Regions from separate parts of the Homo sapiens genome. Here region 2 is linked to region 1. The links come from fine-mapping of genetic effects on gene expression. A gene starts in region 1. The other region holds a variant in brackets. All regions are shown on one strand. Distances are from middle to middle.

Evidence for each region.
Region 2: its variant is fine-mapped to the expression of PLA2G4E-AS1 in sun-exposed skin (GTEx, PIP 0.91).

Annotation. Positions count from the first base shown.
Region 1 is chr15:41,967,874-41,976,749 of GRCh38, forward strand. PLA2G4E-AS1 (PLA2G4E antisense RNA 1) reads left to right here and starts at 4,890. Exons shown (of 4, transcript NR_120334.1): 1 at 4,890-5,125; 2 at 5,931-6,085. EHD4 (EH domain containing 4) reads right to left here and starts at 4,684. Exons shown (of 6, transcript NM_139265.4): 1 at 4,386-4,684. The coding sequence starts at 4,621. RefSeq lists enhancers at 323-372, 2,144-2,363 and silencers at 4,126-4,395, 4,496-4,565, 4,606-4,735.
Region 2 is chr15:41,993,555-42,002,430 of GRCh38, forward strand. It overlaps PLA2G4E (phospholipase A2 group IVE), which reads right to left. Exons shown (of 20, transcript NM_001395548.1): 7 at 7,603-7,666; 8 at 6,550-6,728; 9 at 6,363-6,446; 10 at 5,970-6,007; 11 at 3,570-3,705; 12 at 1,806-1,942. It overlaps PLA2G4E-AS1 (PLA2G4E antisense RNA 1), which reads left to right. Exons shown (of 4, transcript NR_120334.1): 4 at 3,585-5,540. Among named protein-coding and RNA genes, the nearest start is that of PLA2G4E, 23 kb to the right of the region's middle. The variant C/T (reference allele first, on the strand shown) is at 3,770.

The DNA of each region.
Region 1 (8,876 bases):
GCAAGTTCTTTCATCCATGTGTCCGGCCAGAGATTTCCTGAACCTCGCCTGTGGCAGGCCCTGGGAGAGCTCCTCAGCCTGTGGTTTTAATCCCCTCTTGAACACAGCTGGGCTCCCTTCTGCCATCTCTGGGGCATTTTCTTTGAGGAAAAGGAGGAAGCTGAGTAGTTCTGCTTTCTGTTAATATTGCAGCAAGAGCCCATGAGTGGGCCGATCACTTCCTGATTCTTGTTCTTGTTCTAATCATACCTTAAAAGGCTTTTTTAATGTCCAAGGCACTTTTACCTTCTCAGCCCACTCCAGCTTCTTGATCCTTCATACCGCCCATAAACCTTGTCTGCACCCTTGCACATGCACCCCTGCCCCTTTTTTCCCCTATTAAATACTATAGTTAAATGTTAATATCTAAAGTTTTTAAACACAATTACGGTATCAAGCATTTTATTAAAAATTTTTATCATACTTTGATTTTACCAACTTGAGTGTTATGAACAATGAACATGTTTATACATTGACAAGAATACTCATACAGGGATTGTGGGATGGCTACTTTCACTCCCTTTTCCCTCATCTTTACTCCTTTTTTTTTTTTTTTTTGTAGAGATGGGGTCTCACTATGTTGCCCAGGGTGGTCTTGAACTCCTGAGCTCAAACGATCCACCTACCTCAGTCTCCCAAAGTGTTAGGATTACAGGTGTGAGCCACTGCACCTGGCCCCTCATCTTTACTCTTTAGTTCCTTTGCCCTTGGGTTCTTCTAGCTTATTTCTACTTTGTTTTCTTTCTGGCATCCATTTCTATTTTAAATTATTACACATAGATGCAGAAATTACTTGGCTGGCGCTAGTTGCAGAATCATGAAAATTAAATCACATGATGCTTAGTGTTGAAAGACTGAATTGTTTTGGTTTTTTATTGAGATATAATTCATATACCAGAAAATTTATTCTTTTACAGGGTGCACTCCTTTAGTATATTCACAAAGTTGTGCAACCAATATCATTATCCAATTTCAGAACATTTTCATCACATCAAAGAGAAACTCCACGCCCACTAACAGTCATTCTCTATTTCGTTTGCATGCGGCTATCCAGTTGTCCTAGCACCATTTGTTGAACTATAGTTTCCCCCATTGTTCTAATAGTTTTTAAGTGGTTTCTTAGGATTCTCTACATAGAAGATCATGTCATCTGCAAAGAGTTTTACTTTTTTCTCTCCAGTCTGGGAGTTTATTTCTTTTCTTGCCTTATTTCCCTGCTCTCTACCCTTTTAAAGCCTATATAGTTTCTTGAGTGACTTCCCTCTTTTTTCCTCATTAGAATAAGTTTTCTGGGGAGAGGGAACAGAGCATATGAAGGGAGAAAGTGGAGCTCTTAAAAATGTGTAGTTTGGGATGGGGCGCGGTGGCTCACGCCTGTAATCCCAGCACTTTGGGAGGCCAAGGCGGGCAAATCACCTGAGGTCGGGAGTTTGAGACCAGCCTGACCAACATGGAAAAACCCCATCTCTACTAAAAATACAAAATTAGCCAGGCGTGGTGGCACATGCCTGTAATCCCAGCTACTCGGGAGGCTGAGACAGAAGAATTGCTTGAACCCGGGAGGGGGAGGTTGCGGTGAGCCGAGATCATGCCATGGCACTCCAGCCTGGGCAACAACAGCGAAACTGTCTCAAAAAAAAAAAATTGTGTAGTTTGCATTCATTTCAAATGGACTTCATACTTTTTCAGTGGAAATGTCTTCCTTCACAGCACCTGGGGCCAGGGATTTTCTGGAGGAATCTTTGAAATCTGTTTTCCTCAAGTTTTGGACACAAGCCTGGGTGAGCTCCATATCCATCCTTCCTCGGCTAGTACAGAGTCTAAGATGACATGGTCACTTTCCCCCATGCCCATCTCCCCTCCTTCTCTGGCCAATTCTTTATTGCCAGTCAAAGGCAGAAGAGCCAACAGCAATAAGAGAAGATTCCCACCATGTCAGCACAGGTTCTGTGTCATCAGTGACCTCTTGGAATGTGCAGGAAGCCAGGGAGATAAGAATCTATGGCTATGTAGATTAGGTACACCCCACAGCCAAGTATGAGCTTCTAGGGCCCAATCGCTAGAAGCAAACAACCCAGACCACTAACCAGGCTCTAACTAAGGCAGGATCCAGGATGCTCAGCACCCTGGGCCAACCCTTCCGCTCAAGATGAATCCATGGTTCATTTACAGTGTCTGGGGTGATATTTAATTCCAAGTTCACAAGTCTCCAGGGTAGCTGCCCTTTTGTTTGGGGATTTCCTCCCGGGTGCTAAATCACTTCCTCCTAGCTCCAATCTGAAAAGCAATTCAGGTCTCCTGTGGCCTCACCAAGCTTCCTGCCCACACTGATTTTCTTCTAACCTCACTGGTCTACCTTGTGTACATCACCTAACAACAAAGCCACTTAGCTCAAGGAAAGCCTCAAGAACAAATGGCTTCCTAATAAGGTGATTCCTCCCTCACCCTAGGGTGGCCCACAGCTCCAGCACCTGCTGAGAGGTGGCCAATTTGGATGAGGTAGCTGCCAGGAATCAAATCTCAGAACCCTTCATAAAACTGCGCTTAGCTATTCCACAAATTTCTCCAAATAATGAAACAGAGAGAAGAGTGAGAATATAATGAGAGAGAAATCTGGAAAAATACAAAAGATAAATTCATGTTCCTGTGAGTTGTATTCATCTTCCTGGGAGTTGATAATCAGGCTGGCTAGCTATCCAGTCTATGGGAGCAGAGAGAGGGCTGCATTATCTCCAGGTTGGCACAGCATCTAGCAGGGGCTCCCTGATGACACCTGGGCACAACAAGGACCTCACAGCAAAGACAAACAGGAGGAAATGCCTAGGGTGTGGGGACATGCCACCACTAAATTACAAAAATATATGCCTTTCTTCTTTGTATGTTTCAACAGTACCGCTTCCCACTCTTGTACCACTTGGCCATAACACTTTATTATCCCTAGTACCTAAAAACTAGACAGTATTACTGAGACCTTAAATGTGACATTTGTCATCTTTCAAGGTGCCAGTTACTGTAATACAGCTATGGTTCATTTTGAGTGTCTGGGTGACGGTGACATATTTAATTCTATTTTTGTCTTGTCCATAAGCACCAAATAAAGCAATTTTGAAATTACTTTCTTCACACTCAATTTATTATCTAGAACGACATTTCAATACACAGTATATTTGTTTTGTGGAATTCATTCGCAGTGTATCTGGAGGCCTGGATTTAACATATTTCCTGTAGTGATAGCTACTCTATTTGTAGGAACTATTTAGGTCACTGGAGTGGAGAAAAAGAGGTCGCTACTTAACAGAAATGGCATGTATCCAAATATAGATGCAGTTTTCTCAACACCTGTTGCACATCAAATGATGAAGAGATTGTTACAATTTCCAAAACCCTGGACCAAAACCTTAAATGATCAGCACTTTGTTTCAACTGATACACGGCTTAAGTCAGAAAAATAAGTTCTTCTTACCAAAAACAGTGAGCCTAAATATGCTGGCTGCTTTAGAAATAAAACAGGTGATCAACAAAGCAATCTGTTTCTGTCTAAATAATTTCCCAGCAAAAGTCACTTCTTTTGAAACTATATGATTTGAACCACAGGGTATGCACAGTGATTGTGTGCTTTCAGAAACACGGTAAGCATGACAAATATTTTCAGTTGTCAAGGGTAAGCGAGGAGGGAATGACCCACCTAAGAAATGGAAACTAACAAATAGTAATATGACACTCCCCCTTAGTTCCACAGGCTGGTGCGGCTGCTACACGCAGCTCACTTCCTACGGGCGGCTAAAGGCGGTGCATGAACTGAACGTAGGCGGCCTCTTTATCCCCTCCCCACAACACTGTGGGGTGGCACGTAAAGACCTCAAGGGAAGGGGGCCTGGGCGATACGCTCTCCTGCTGCCATTCATTTGTTCAAGAAATAGTTGAACAAATGAATAGTTAAACAAACTCTCCAACTAGGACTCTGTCCCATTCGGATACCCTACGCCTCTCCCCCCATTTCCATCCCTAGGCATCACTCCCTCGTCAAGAATATGCTGATTATGGCTCGCGCCCCCTCTCTCCCTTGGACCCTCCCGCCAGGGCGACCGGACGAGGCCAGCGGGAGCAACGCCTTCCGAACCGCAAGGAAGGAGGGCTCGGAGTGCGCAGGGCGCGGGTTCGCGGGACCCTCCAGCGCGCGGGGCTGGCCAGCCGGGGCGGGGCCGAGGGCACCGGGCGCCGAGCTCCGGGAGGGGTCCCCGAGGTCGCGCCGGCCGGGAGGGGCAGCGGCGGGAGGCGGCCGACTGCGGCGCACACGTGGGGAGGGCGGAGCGGGGCGGGAGCCGGGCGAGGGGCGGTGACGGTACCTGATGAAGGTGGTCTTGCCGGTGCTGTACTGGCCCACCAGCAGGATCATGGGCTTGTTCTCGAAGTCGGCGTCCTCCAGCGCAGGCGAGTGGAACTCGTGGAAGCGGTACGCCTCCTCCAGCGGCAGCACCTTGCGCAGGTAGAGCGAGCGCAGCCCGCCCGTCACCGTCTGCACCGCGTCCGCGCCGCCAGCGCGTTCGCGCCCGCCCGCCTGCCGCCCCATCCAGCTGAACATCCTGCCGCCAGTCCACGCTCGGATGGGACCCTGCTCCGGGTTCGACTCTCCCCGGCTCGCACTGAGCCGCCCCGGCCGCGCTGGCCGCCGCCCGAGGAGGGCCCCGCCTTGTGCTGCCACAGCCAGTCTTCGGCCGCTACGTCACGCGCGCTCGCCCACTATTCAGACGAGCTCTCTCAGGTCCTTCCTGATTGGATCTCTGCCAGAGAGGGCTGAAGGCGTCAGCCAATTGAGAGGAGGTTCTTAATGAATTATTGATGACGGAGTCATTCTAGAGGACTGGGCGGGGAGATGGTGTCTTCCCGGCCGGGTGGCACTGACCGGTCATGCTCAGGGCCCCCTTCTGGTTGCCGGTGCCTCACCTCTGGCCAGGTGGCATCGGCTTCCGGGTAAATCTGAGCTGCCCAAAGCGAGCCTCCGGAGGCTGCTCCATCTCCTGGAACGTTTACTCATTCAGGCCTCTGGACGTCGATACTGGGGATGAAAAGTTCAGAAAGTGGACAGGCAGGTTCTGTCTTCCCGGGGGCGGGTGGTTATGACTCCGTTTTACAGGCCAAGAGACCCAGGCTCACGGGCATAATTGACACAATCTTGAGGGGAAGTGGACTGGAATCTATTTGAGTAGCCGTTTCTCCTACTTCTCCACATTGCCCTCACTAAATTCTGGATCAGCTAAAGGCTTTTTCCCCTTAGTTTTCTTTATGTGTTTTTCTGTAAAGCCGAAAATTTAGTCATTACTCTCATTATTACATTATCCTCATTATTACAACTTTATTTCCACATATTGACATGTGAGTCATTGTCACCTCCTAGCTGTTTTTTGTTGTTGTTGTTGTTTTCTGAGACGGAGTCTCGCTCTGTCGCCCAGGCTGGAGTGCAGTGGCACGATCTCGGCTCACTGCAACCTCCGCTTCCCGGGTTCAAGCAATTTTCCTGTCTCAGCCTCCTGAGTAGCTGGGACTACAGGCGCTCACCACCATGCCCAGCTAATTTTTGTATTTTTAGTAGAGATGGGGTTTCACCATATTGGTAAGGCTGGTCTTGAACTCCTGACCTCAGATGATCCGCCTGCCTTGGCCTCCCAAAGTATTGGGATTATAGGCGTGAGCCACCGCCCCTGGCCTGTTTCTTTTCTAGGTTAAAAGGATACTCACTTATCTAAGTTGAGATTGGGGGAAATAATCACCTTTTGTGTCCTTGATTGTAGCTTAGGAATATTTCTTAGTTGTTTTAGAGCATTTCTCAAGTGTGATCCATGGGGCCACCTGCATATATGCATTTATGAGCTGGGATGCTTGTTAAAATGCAGATTCCTGGTCTTCAGTCCAGACCTACTGAGTTAAAATATTGAGGAGAGATGGAGCTCAACAGATGCCCTAGGTGACTCTGATGTGGCCTAAGTCTGGGGAAACAGTACACCCTGCAGTACTTCTCCAACCTAACAGAAATGCGGATTCTGATTCGGTAGGTATGGGATGGGGCCCATGACTCTACATTTCTAACAGGCTCTCGGGTATTGCCAATGCTACCCATCCCTGGACCATACTTGGAGTATGAGAGAACAGGACTTTGCATCAAAAGATCTGGGTTTGAACCTTGACTATGTAAATTAATGGCTGTGTGATTTTAAATGTGATGAGTTACCTCTCTGCCCTAGTTTCCTTAAGAGCAAAATGGAAACTCCTTTGGAGTTGTTGTGTGGGTCACATAGTTGGAGGGAATTGTATGTAACTAGGGAAGTGAAAAGAAAGCCAAGGGAAAATAAAGTTAGACATCTGCCTTGTGTCAAAATAAAACAAAGATTGAAATGTAAAAAGAAAATGAAACCACTGCACTACTAGAAGAAGGTACAAGAGATTTATACAATTTGGCGGTGGAAAAGCCTTTCTAACCAACATTAAGGACAGAAATTATGAAAGCAAAGGCTGACATATTTGACAACAAAAGTAAAAGCTTCGATGTATTTTTTTAGAATACATAAAAACAAACGGATATAAATACAATCTTACCATATGATGCAGAAATCAGCTCCTTAGTATTTACCCAAATGAATTGAAAACTTATATCCACAGAAAAGCCTGTACATGGATGTTCATAGTGGCTTTATTCATAAGTGCCAAAAATTGGAAGCAACTAACATGTCCTTCAGTAAGTGAAAGGATAATCTGTGGTACATCCAGACAATGGAATCTTATTCAGCACTAAAAAGAAATGAGCTATCAAGCCATAAAAAGACACAGAGGAAACTTAAATGCCTATTACTAAGTGAAAGAAGCCAATCCGAAAATGCTATGTACTGTACGATTTCATCTTTATGACATTCTGGAGAAGGCAAAATTATGGAGGAAGTAAAAAGGTCAGTAGTTTCTAGGTGTTAGGGAGAAGGAAGGAATGAACAGGCAGAGAACAGAGGATTTTTATGGCAGTGGCTCTACTTTTTATGGTACTATAATGATGGATACATGTCATTATATATTTGTCAAAACCCACAGAATGTACAACACCAAGAGTGAATGTAAGTGATAATGACTCGTGAATTTCAGATCAGTTTTAGGTTCACAGCAAAATGGAGCATAAAGTACCGAGAGTTCCCATATACCCCCACCCTCCCCGACACACAGCCTCCCCCACTATCAACATCCTGAACCAATGGAACATTCGTTACAATCAATAAACCTAACCTAAATAGATACATCACTAAATTAACTTAAAATGGAACTAGATATAAAACTAATATAAATGTAGAACTAAATGTAAAACTTAAGATTATAAAACTTCTAGTAGAAAACACGGGAGAAAATTGTTGTGAACTTGGGTTAGGGAAAGATTTCTTAGGTGACACCAAAAGCACAATCCTTAAAGGAAAAAAAAGTTGGTAAATTGGATTTCATTAAACTTGAGAACTTCTGACCTTTGAAAGTACTGTGAAGAGAATGAAAAGACAAGACAAGGCACAGAATATACTTGCAGATCACATATCTGATAAAGGACTTGTATCCAGAATATTTAAAAACTTCTTAAAACTTAATAGTAAAAACCCCAATTTTAAAATTTCCATTTAAAAAATGGAAAAAAGATCTAAACAGATATTTTACAAAAGAAGATGTATGGATGGCAAATAAGCACATGAAGACATGTTCAACATTGTTGTTTGTTAGGAGAATGCGAATTAAAACCACAGCAAGATACTACCACATACCTATTAGAATGTCTAAAATTAGGAAAGACTGATCATGCCAATCATTGATGAGGATGTGGAGCAACTGGAACTCTTACACATTGTTGGTCAGAATGTAAAATGGCACAACCACTTTGGAAAACAGTGTGGCAGTTTCTTAAAAAGTGGAACGTACACTTACCACATGACCCAGCAGGGGAGGAGCAGAGGGAAGGATTGCAAAAGGCACTGGAAAGCTTTTGGGGCTGAAGGGTTTATTCATTACCTTGATTGTGGTTATGGTTTCACCATTGTATACATATGTAAAAACTCATGAAATTATGTACGTTGGATCCTCCATATCTCTGTGTTCTGTATCCATGGATTCAATCAACCACAGATGGAAAATATTTGGGGAAAAAAATGGATGGTTGCATCTGTACTGAACACATACAGACCTTTTTTCCTTTTCATTATTCCCTAAGCAATACAGTATAACAACTATTTTCATATCATCTACATTAATAATAAGTAATCTAGGTAGGATTTAAAGTATATGGGTTCCTGATGCATGGCGTTTTAAGTTTAAAAGAAAGTATGTGGAGGATGTGCTTAGGCTATATGCAAATACAATACCTTTTTTTTTTTTTTTTACAATACCATTTTATATAAGGGAGTTGAGCATCCATGGTTTTGGTATTCCCAGGGGTCCTGGACTCACGGATAAATGTACTTTAAATATGCACAGTTGATCATATGTTTATTACACCTTGATTAGTTGTTAAATATGGTCATACTTTTTGACTCAGGAATTTTTATCTTGAGGAAATTTATCCTGAGGGTATTTATACTGAGGAAATGATTAATGTAAATTTTTATCTAAGACGATGGTTGTCAGCATGGAGCTGTCTATCATCATGGAGGATTAGTTAAGCAAATTATGGGTTCCTATGTGGTTACTGAAAACTATGTCATTTGACAAGAATATTAATGATGTGCAAAAATGCTCAGAATATATTTTTAAGTGGAAAAAGGCTAGATTACAAAAGTGAATGTACATGCAGCTGCTAGGGAAAACAATATGGAGGTTCTGCAACA
Region 2 (8,876 bases), 26 kb after region 1:
CATGTTGGTTGTCGGGGGGAGCAAAACAAAGAGGTGATCCCACTAGCCCTGGGTCTGGCCTCAGTCTGCCTCTTCTTGGCCTGGATCCAGCTTTTCTGCGTCAGGACAGGAAAGGGCCCTTTTCATTCTGCGCCTGAGAATGACCTCCCTGGCAGTGCAGCTAGTCTGCGGCTGCACATTTAAGGAAACAGGGGCCTCCTCCCTCACAGGACTTGCTTTTGGGAAGGTGGGAGGTGGTCAGGAGACTTTTCAACAAAAAGCACCCTGCTCTCCATAAGCTTCACCCATTCATTTTATACTTTAAAAAAGCTTCCAGAAGCCATTGCAAATGAGTTTTTAAAAGAATACGACTTGTGCTTTCCCCAGGCCAGGGGACCCCACCCATCCCACCCCGGCTGGGCCTGAGTTCCTCCTGCTATCTGTCTATCGCATAGTAGTCCGGGAGGACGCAGGTGCCCCTCAACCTGCTGGAAGCAAGTTACCTTCTTAACCTACTACCGGGGGCAGCCATTTAGCATGGAGGTTAAGGATGTGGGCCCGGGACTAGGTTCAAATTCTACTCCACTGCTCATTAACTGAGTGTCCCTGGCAAATTACTCTGTTTCTCCAGCTGAAAAATAATGACAATGCCTCTCTCATAGTTTTTTGTGAGGAAGAAACAAGATGAGCCATAGGAAGCAGTGACTCCAGTGCTTAGCAAGAGGCAAATGTCTCCTTCTGTCTCACCTGGGCTGGCGCCTCTGCCCCCCGGGGGGGTGTGTGGCACAGGAGCCCTTGGCTTTCCAAGGCCCATTCACATCCATTTGCTCACACGGGGGCTACCCAGAGCTCCTCCAGTATACAAGGCACAGCAAGGGACCTCAGGGCTCACAGGCCCACCAGTCACAGACAGGACACGGCCCTGCTTGATAGGCCACCCTGAACCAGGGCCACGCAGGGTTTTGATGGGCCCCACAAAAAATGTTTATATGTTTTTTATTTTTGTTTTTTTTAAAGACAAGTCCTCCCTATGTGGCCCAGCCTGGTCTTGAGCTCCTGGCCTCAAGCAAGCCTTCTGCCTCTGCCTCCCAAAGTGCTGGGATTACAGATGTGAGCCACCATACCTGGCCACATAAAAAATATTAAAATTTATATTTCATGCTGGCCACATAAAAAATATTAAAATTTATATTTCATGACTGTTGTATAAAGACAAATGTATTCATATTATTTATTAAAACATTTTCTTCAACCTATAAGTTTGTTAATGAAATGATCCTGATTTTAAAAGAAATTAACCTATTTTTGTGGGCCCCTAAAAGTACAGTGAGCCGCAGGCACTGTGCCTTCTGTGGGTAAGCTGACCTCACCCTGGCCTCCCTGTGGGGGAACCCAGTGCTCAGCCCCTGGCCCTGCTCACCAGCAGAGGGTGAGAAGGAGGGAGCTCAGCTGCAGGGCCCTGCCCGTTGCATGTCCCCAGCAGTATGGGGTCATGTTCCTGGGTCCATACCACAGCCCCAGGGAAACAGTAACACCAGGAAAGGCCAGGGCATACAGTGTCTCTGGCATACTTAGTAGCGGGAGAGCGTCTTACACCCACCGCATGAGGTCAGAGCTACTGTTATCCGCACTGTGCAGATACACAAGCCGAGCCTCCAAGGAGTCAAGCTGCATGCCCAAGGCCACACCACTGCATGTGGGGCACTTCCCAGGCTTCAGGAGTCACTTTGTCTTTGGGTGGCGGGGAGGAGCTTCACCTGAGACCCCAGGCCAGCCTGTTCGTGGCTTGCCCTGGGCTCCACAGACAGTGGCTCATGTCTCCTTACCAGGTGGCCCCTGATAGACCGGTGATGTAGCTGGCACAGTCCAGGAGGTTCAGCTTCTGCAGCCCCAGCAGGTGGCCATACATGGAGGTCATGGATCTTGTTCCACCCCCAGTGGCCATGATGGCTATCAGCGGCACCTGGGGTTACACAGAGGCAGGCGGTTGGGGAAGGCTCCAGAAGCAAAGCTTGGGAGAAGACTTAGAATGACGGCAACTTTGAAAGAACAATGGAGGAGGCAGAGCTGGCTACAGAGGGCAGGGAGTGCGGCGTTGAGCCACCTGACACCTGCCTTTCCACAGAGCAGTGGGTCTAGAAATAGACCTCAGCTCCACACCCAGAAGTTGGTGTCAGTGAAGGACTCTGAAGCCTAACACAGGCTTGGTAAATCACAGAAAGCTGTGGCTAGCAGAGTTCTTAGCACTGTTAGTCTAGCCCTCGGTTAACAGGTGATAAAACTGGGGTCCGAGGGTGGTGGGCAGCTTGTTCAAGAACCCTACTAATGTGCGATCCCTCAATGGGACAAACCAACATCTTCTGTAGCTGGATCTGAGGGAAGGCACCAGGCCTGGCACATGGTGCCTGCTCAGCAGGTACTGTACTGGCAAGGCCAAGAGTCAATGGACTGGTGATGTGGGAAGGAGCAGGGTTGCCAGCTCTGGGTCAGCAGAGGTTTAAGAGGCCCCTGGAATGTTTCCCTAAAGATAGGGCCAGGTACAATGGCTCACACTTGTAATCCCAGCACTTTGGGGGGCCGAGGTGGGCAGATTGCTTAAGCCCAGGAGTTCAAGACCAGCCTGGGCAACATGTAGAAACCCCATCTCTACAAAAAAATACAAAAATTAGCCAGGCATTGTGGCTCATTCCTGGAGTCCCAGCTACTTGGGAGGCTGAAGTAAGAGGATTGCTTGAGCCTGGGAGGTGGAGGCTGCAGTGAGCTGTGATGGTGCCACTGCACTCCAGCCTGGGTGACAGAGCAAGACCCTGTCTCAAGAAAAAAAAAAAAAAAAAAAAAAAAAAAAAGGAGGGAGGAAGGGGCTCTTTGTCAAGACTCATTCTGTCTGTTTTCCTTTGAGTGGGGGCTGTAAGAACCTTCCATTGGCTAAAGCGCTATTACAAGTCCTCCTCGGGCACCCGCCAGGTCTCTGTCCTCACCTAGGGTCAGCCTCAGAAAGCAGGCGCTTGGAGGGCTTGCCTGCTGCCCAGGCGAGTGTGGGCCTTGGTCCACACAAGGGAGGCAACAGAGGGCTGTGACAGAGGCCCACCGTCTGCTCCCGTGGGAAGAAGGGGCGGTCTGGCCCTAGGAGTGCAAGTTGCTTCTCTCCAGCTTCCTAGCGCTGTTATTTCTGGGAGTGTGTTTACCTGTGCGGATTTGAGAGGAGAGACAATTGAGGAAAGAAGGACCTAAGGCCTTTTGGGTGGAGGTGTGGGGTGCAGAAGGTGGTACAGCTTAAAATGTTTTCCTGGCTGGGGTGAGGAGGGCATTTTATCCCTGAGTAAGGCCCCTTTAGCCACAGCAGGAACTCTTAGTGCTTGGGAGGAGGCGCTGGGGCTCTGTCCTTTCTGTCTCCATTTTGCTCTCCCCTTCTCTTGTGAATATAAAACAGAATCACTTCCAGCACAGCTCTCACCAGGGCGCCTGTACCTCAGCAGTAAAAGCATCCATGGAGGTGGCGCCTGGGGTAGGGCAGGGCCTGGGTTGGCTGGGAGGGCATGGTGCTGGAAGGACCAGCTGGGCCCAGGCTGGCCACATCCCTGATTACCCACCTCGTCCTCCTGCAGGTCTTCCTCCAGCTGCAGCACCTGCTTCAGGGCCTTGGCCACCACGACCTTCCGCTTCTGCAGAAACTCCAGCTCTGCTGGGCACAGGCTGAAGCCCAGCCGCACGTCCAGTGTCTCAGGGCTGGAGGGAGAGAGGACCCTGTATTGGGCCTGCAGCCTCTACCTCCCTGGAGTAGACACAGCTT[C/T]AGGGTCCATTGGACCTAGGCTCAAAGCCTACTTCTGCCAGCGACCACTTCTGTGACCTTGGGTCTCCACTTTCCCATCTGTAAAGTGGGGCGAATCGTGCTGAACTCTCAGCACTGTCTTCAGCACTTAAAGAGATAACAAATGCAAAGCCCCCAAAGCCTTAGCTGGCACAATGCGAGCTGGTACTCAACAAAAGATAACTGTTGGCACTGTGTTAGGGACGCTTTGAGTCCTCTGTCTCCTCGGCCAGATCTGGAAAGTCCAGAAAGTCTTCCCCCAGGTGGCTTCTCTAGCCCAGGGCCAGGCATGGGTGACAAAAGGCGCTGAGATCATTTTGCCAAATCCCTCTGAACAAGGCCCCACGGTATGGACTCTTCTGTGCTAGGTAAACAAACTCCCTGTTCCTATGGAGCTCACGTTCTTCAATGAGCTCTTCCTGCTCCTAGAATAACAATTATTCTGTGTGTGTGTGCAATTGACAAAAACCATCCCATTCCTGATCTCATTGTGTCACCTCATAGTCTGCAGGCAGGTGGGGCAGGCACCTCTGTGACATGCACAATGCTTGTCCTCTTTTTTTTTTTTAATCACATCCCTGCCCCAAACAAGTCCAGGCTCCTGGCCTGGCATCCAAGACCCTGCCTGATCTTTCCAAGCTCACCTCAAACTACCCGCGAAACTTCTGGGTCAGGTCCCAGAGCTCCCAGAAGCAGTCCTGTTTCCGGGTCTTGGCACAGGCCCCTGCCTTCACCAGAAGTGTCTTCCCTTTGCCCACCTCCAGCCTGTGCATCCTCTGAGGCCCAGCTCCCCAGTGACTCCAGATGAATGTACCTTGACCATTTCCAACTGAGCCTTGGCTCACTGACAAAGCCACATCTCCTTGAAGGCTGGGCCTAGGAGATTTCCATCATGTCTCCTCTTTGTCCAGCACAGGGCTGCAGACATGGCTGTTAGAAAATAATTCTTTCTTTGGCCTCAACAGGGAATGAATAATAATAATACAACAACAATAATAACAATAACATTAGCTGACGTTTGCTGAGCATCCCACTTGCCAGATGGATTACTGAGTACTTCGCACGTGCTGTCTAGCTGGATCCTCAGAGCAACCCAGTGATGCACAGGATCCTTGTTATTCTCCCAATGTACAGATGAGGAAAACAGAGACTCAGTAAGGGCAAAGAGCTTTTCCAAGGGCAAATAGCTAATCAAACTGTCAATAGAAATCATGGCCACTTGATTTCTGACAATCAAGATTTCTGAAAACGATGTTGTTTTCAGCAGATGGTGCTGAGACATCTGGATATCCACATGCCAAAGAACGAGGTTGAGCCCCTCTTTTACACCATGTAGATTGATTACCTAAAAATTGATCATAGACCTAAATGTGAGAGCTAAAACTAAACAAGTCTTAGAAAAAAACATGGGAATATATTTTCAGGACTTTGGTCGGGCGCGGTGGCGCACGCTTGTAATCCCAGCACTTTGGGAAGCCGAGGAGGGTGGATCACTTGAGGTCAGGAGTTCGAGACCAGCTGGCCAATACGGTGAAACCCCGTCTCTACTGAAAATACAAAAATTAGCCAGGTGTAGAGGTGTGCATCTGTAATCCCAGCTACTGGGGAGGCTGAGGCAGGAGAATCGCTTAACCCAGGAGACAGAGGTTGCAGTGAGCTGAGATCACACCACTGCACTCCAGCCTGGGCGACAGTGAGACTCCATTTCAAAATAAAATAAAATAAAATAAAATAAAATAAAAATTTCAGGACATTGGATTAGGCAATGATTTCTGGTTTCTTAGATATGACACCAAAAGCACAAGTGACAAGATAAAAAAACAAATTTCCTCAAAAGTAAAGTCCTTTGTGCTTCAAAGGACACCAACAAGAATGTGAAAAGATACGCCATAGAATAAGAGGAAATATTTGCAAATCATATATCTGACAAGGGATTTGTATCTGGCATATGTAAAGCACTCTTACAACTTAACAATAAAAAAACACAAATAACCCACATAAAAAGTGGGCAAAGGATCTAATAGAAATGTCTCCAAAGAAGATGATATGCCAGCCAGCCCATGGAAAGATGTTCAACATCATTAGCCATAGGGGAAATGCAAATCAAAACCACAGTGAGATACCACTGCACACCCACTGCTATGAATAAGTGAGAGGCACGGACAGAATGCGGGTACTATACCAGGGTGTAGACTTCATGTGTAATTCATAACTCTCACCCTGGGGAGGGAAAGATGAAAAGCTTGTCAGAGGTGACAATTCAGAGCCAAGTGATCCCAGATCCACACTGTCCACCCAGACCCCACTCAGCACACACGTGCACACACAGGCGCTCCATCCCTGCCTCTCTCTTCTGGACACAATCTCCCCACCATCTTCAACTCAGCCTCCATACACTCTTTGGACCACACTGTAGCTCATCAGTCTCCTGCCCCACAAGACTCCTCCATCCTGCCTGAGAGAGACCCTCACGAGTCACATTCTCTCTTGTACCTCCCCAGGCTCTCCCCACCTCCCTACCACAGGAGCTCCAGGGGAAGTAAGTCAGGGGCCCTTCCCAGACTCAGGCACTCACCACAGGCAGGGTCATCACCTGACCATCGGAAAGGCAGTCGAGGGGCTGGCTGATGGGGCCCTTCTTGCGAGAGCGGCAGCAAAGCTGGAGGGATGGGTGGGTTCTGTGAGAGGGGCTGGGGAGCTCCTCTGGCACCCCCCACCTGTCCCAGTCCCCCACACCTCCCCCAGTGTCAGCCGCCTTGTACCCCACAGCTCCAGTGACTCTTGGGCACTTCCACGTGCACCTGGGACTGGAAGTACTTGGGGTAGTGGAAGCAGGCAGCGGTTTGGAAGCAGGCAGAGGTTGGGCAGCAGGGTTCCAAGCAGGGCCGGACACGCTGGGTGTTCTCAAAGGATTCGTTCACCATCACCAGGAGGTCCTTCACTGGGAGAGAGGACAAGAGGGTGAGACCCTGGGAGCCTCTCACTACCCACCTGCAACTTGGTCCAGCAAAAAACCTATTTGGAGGTATCCAGGAGGAGTTTAGAATCACCTGGGGCACCAGTTCAAATTCCCCAGAGATTCTCAATCTATAGGGTAGGGCAGGGCCCAGGAACCTGCATTTTAATGAGGTTTATGAGGATGCAGACAAACATAGTCCCCAGAAAACCCTTTGAGATGCTGAGAAGGTCCTCAGGACCAGTCCTTGGCTCAGCTTTGCCAGAAGATGCCCCAAAGTAACCTGCCCACTGTAGAGGAGGCAGACCCTCCGCACACTGTCGCTTTTGATGTAGACGCCTCTTCTGTCCTCCCTCCCTCCCTCATGTCTGGTAGCCTTGCATGGGCAACATGGGGTGGGGTGGGGAGTAGGGTAGGGGTATGGTATTCATGGATCTCTTAGGTCTCTGCCAGCTATAAAGTGCTAGGACCCTCTGTGAGCTGTGGTCTGCCTAGAGGAAGGGGCATAGTTAGAGGGGTCCTGGGCTTCGGGTGCTGACCACCTCACTGACCTAGGCAATCTGAGGTCCTGGCATGGCACAGCACAGACAAGCGTGGATAGAGGGAGCAGCACTGGGACCCCAGACCTGAGATACTCCAAGGTTATGTGGGTGCTTGGGCGAACACGCCCTTTACAGAGCAGGATGGGAGGCCAGGGGCTCAGGACCCCTGGGGGTGAGATGATTCTGAGGGGTTTCAGCCGAGCTTTTGGTCCCCCTGAGCCCAGGGAAGCCCTGGACTAGGTGGAGTCTGATGCTGATGGGATTTGGAAGCAGCTCCCCCTTGTCCCCCAGTAGGCAGAAAAGGCAAAACAGCTCACTTTTCTCCCTCTTCCTCCGCCTCCTGGATTGTGCATGAACCTCCAGGCAGGAGACTTGTCGAGACTGTAAAAAACAAAGGAGGGTCACAGAGTGTCTGAGCACCAGCCACCTCCTTGCTCTTCCAGGCTGAAGGGAGATGAGGGACCAGAGGATACATTCAGCATTGGTCTGACTGGGCTGATGCTGGGGAATGCAGAATGTGTTGACCACATTTTCTGAACCCAATCAAGGCATGCCATCTCACTCAGAGATAGGATACTTGACCACGAAGCTGTCCCAGGAGGTCTAGGACCCACGGTCACAGTTTACTAGGGGTCAGGTCCTCAGCTGCAGGTCGGGAATCTGACCTGAGGGAATGTTCAGCTCTGGGCTTTCAAAGTGAGGGCTTCCGACAAAATAGCCTTGTCAAGATGCTGAGGCAGATCATACTCCTTTGCCACACATTCCCAAAGACTCTTCTTTTTGAGGGAGAGGTCTCCTTGAACCCTGAGGCACTGGATGCATTTAATTAAAATAGCTGTACCAACAGCCGAAATATGAATTTTTGTTTTTGGCACAGGGTCTCACTCTGTCACCCAGGCTGGAGTGCAGTGTCATAATCACAGCTCACTGCAGCCTTGACCTCCTGGGCTCAAGCGATCCTCCCACCTCAGCCTCCTGAGTAGCTGGGACTACAGACACATGCTACCATGCCTGGCTAATTTTTGTATTTTTTTGTAGGGATGGAGTTTCACTATGTTGCCCAGACTTGTTTTGAACTCCCGGGCTCAAGTGATCCCCCAACCTTGGCCTCCCAAAGTGCTGGGATTATAGGCATGAGCCACCATGACTGGCTATGAAACAATTTTTAATACAGAAATTGTGCTTGTAGGCCAGGCACAGTAGCTCACACCTGTAATCCCAGTACTTTGGGAGGCTGAGGCTGGCAGATCGCTTGAGCTCAGGAGTTTGAAACCAGCCTGGGCAACATGTTGAAACCCCGTCTCTACAAAATACAAAATAATAGCTGGGGGTGGTGGCGTGCTTGAGCACGGGAGGCAGAGGTTGCAGTGATCCGAGATCGCAGCACTGCACTCCAGCCTGGGCGACAGAGTGAGACCTTGTCTCAAAAAAAAAAAAAAAAAAAAAAAGGTAAACTGTGCTTGTAGAATTACTGGGGTTGTGGGGTACAGGACCAAGACTGAGTCTGAGAGGAGGCTGCACTTAGTGGGTTGTTTTATTGGGGAGGCTCTTAAGGGGAAGGGTCACTTTTGGGATATGAAGTGCTCGGCCA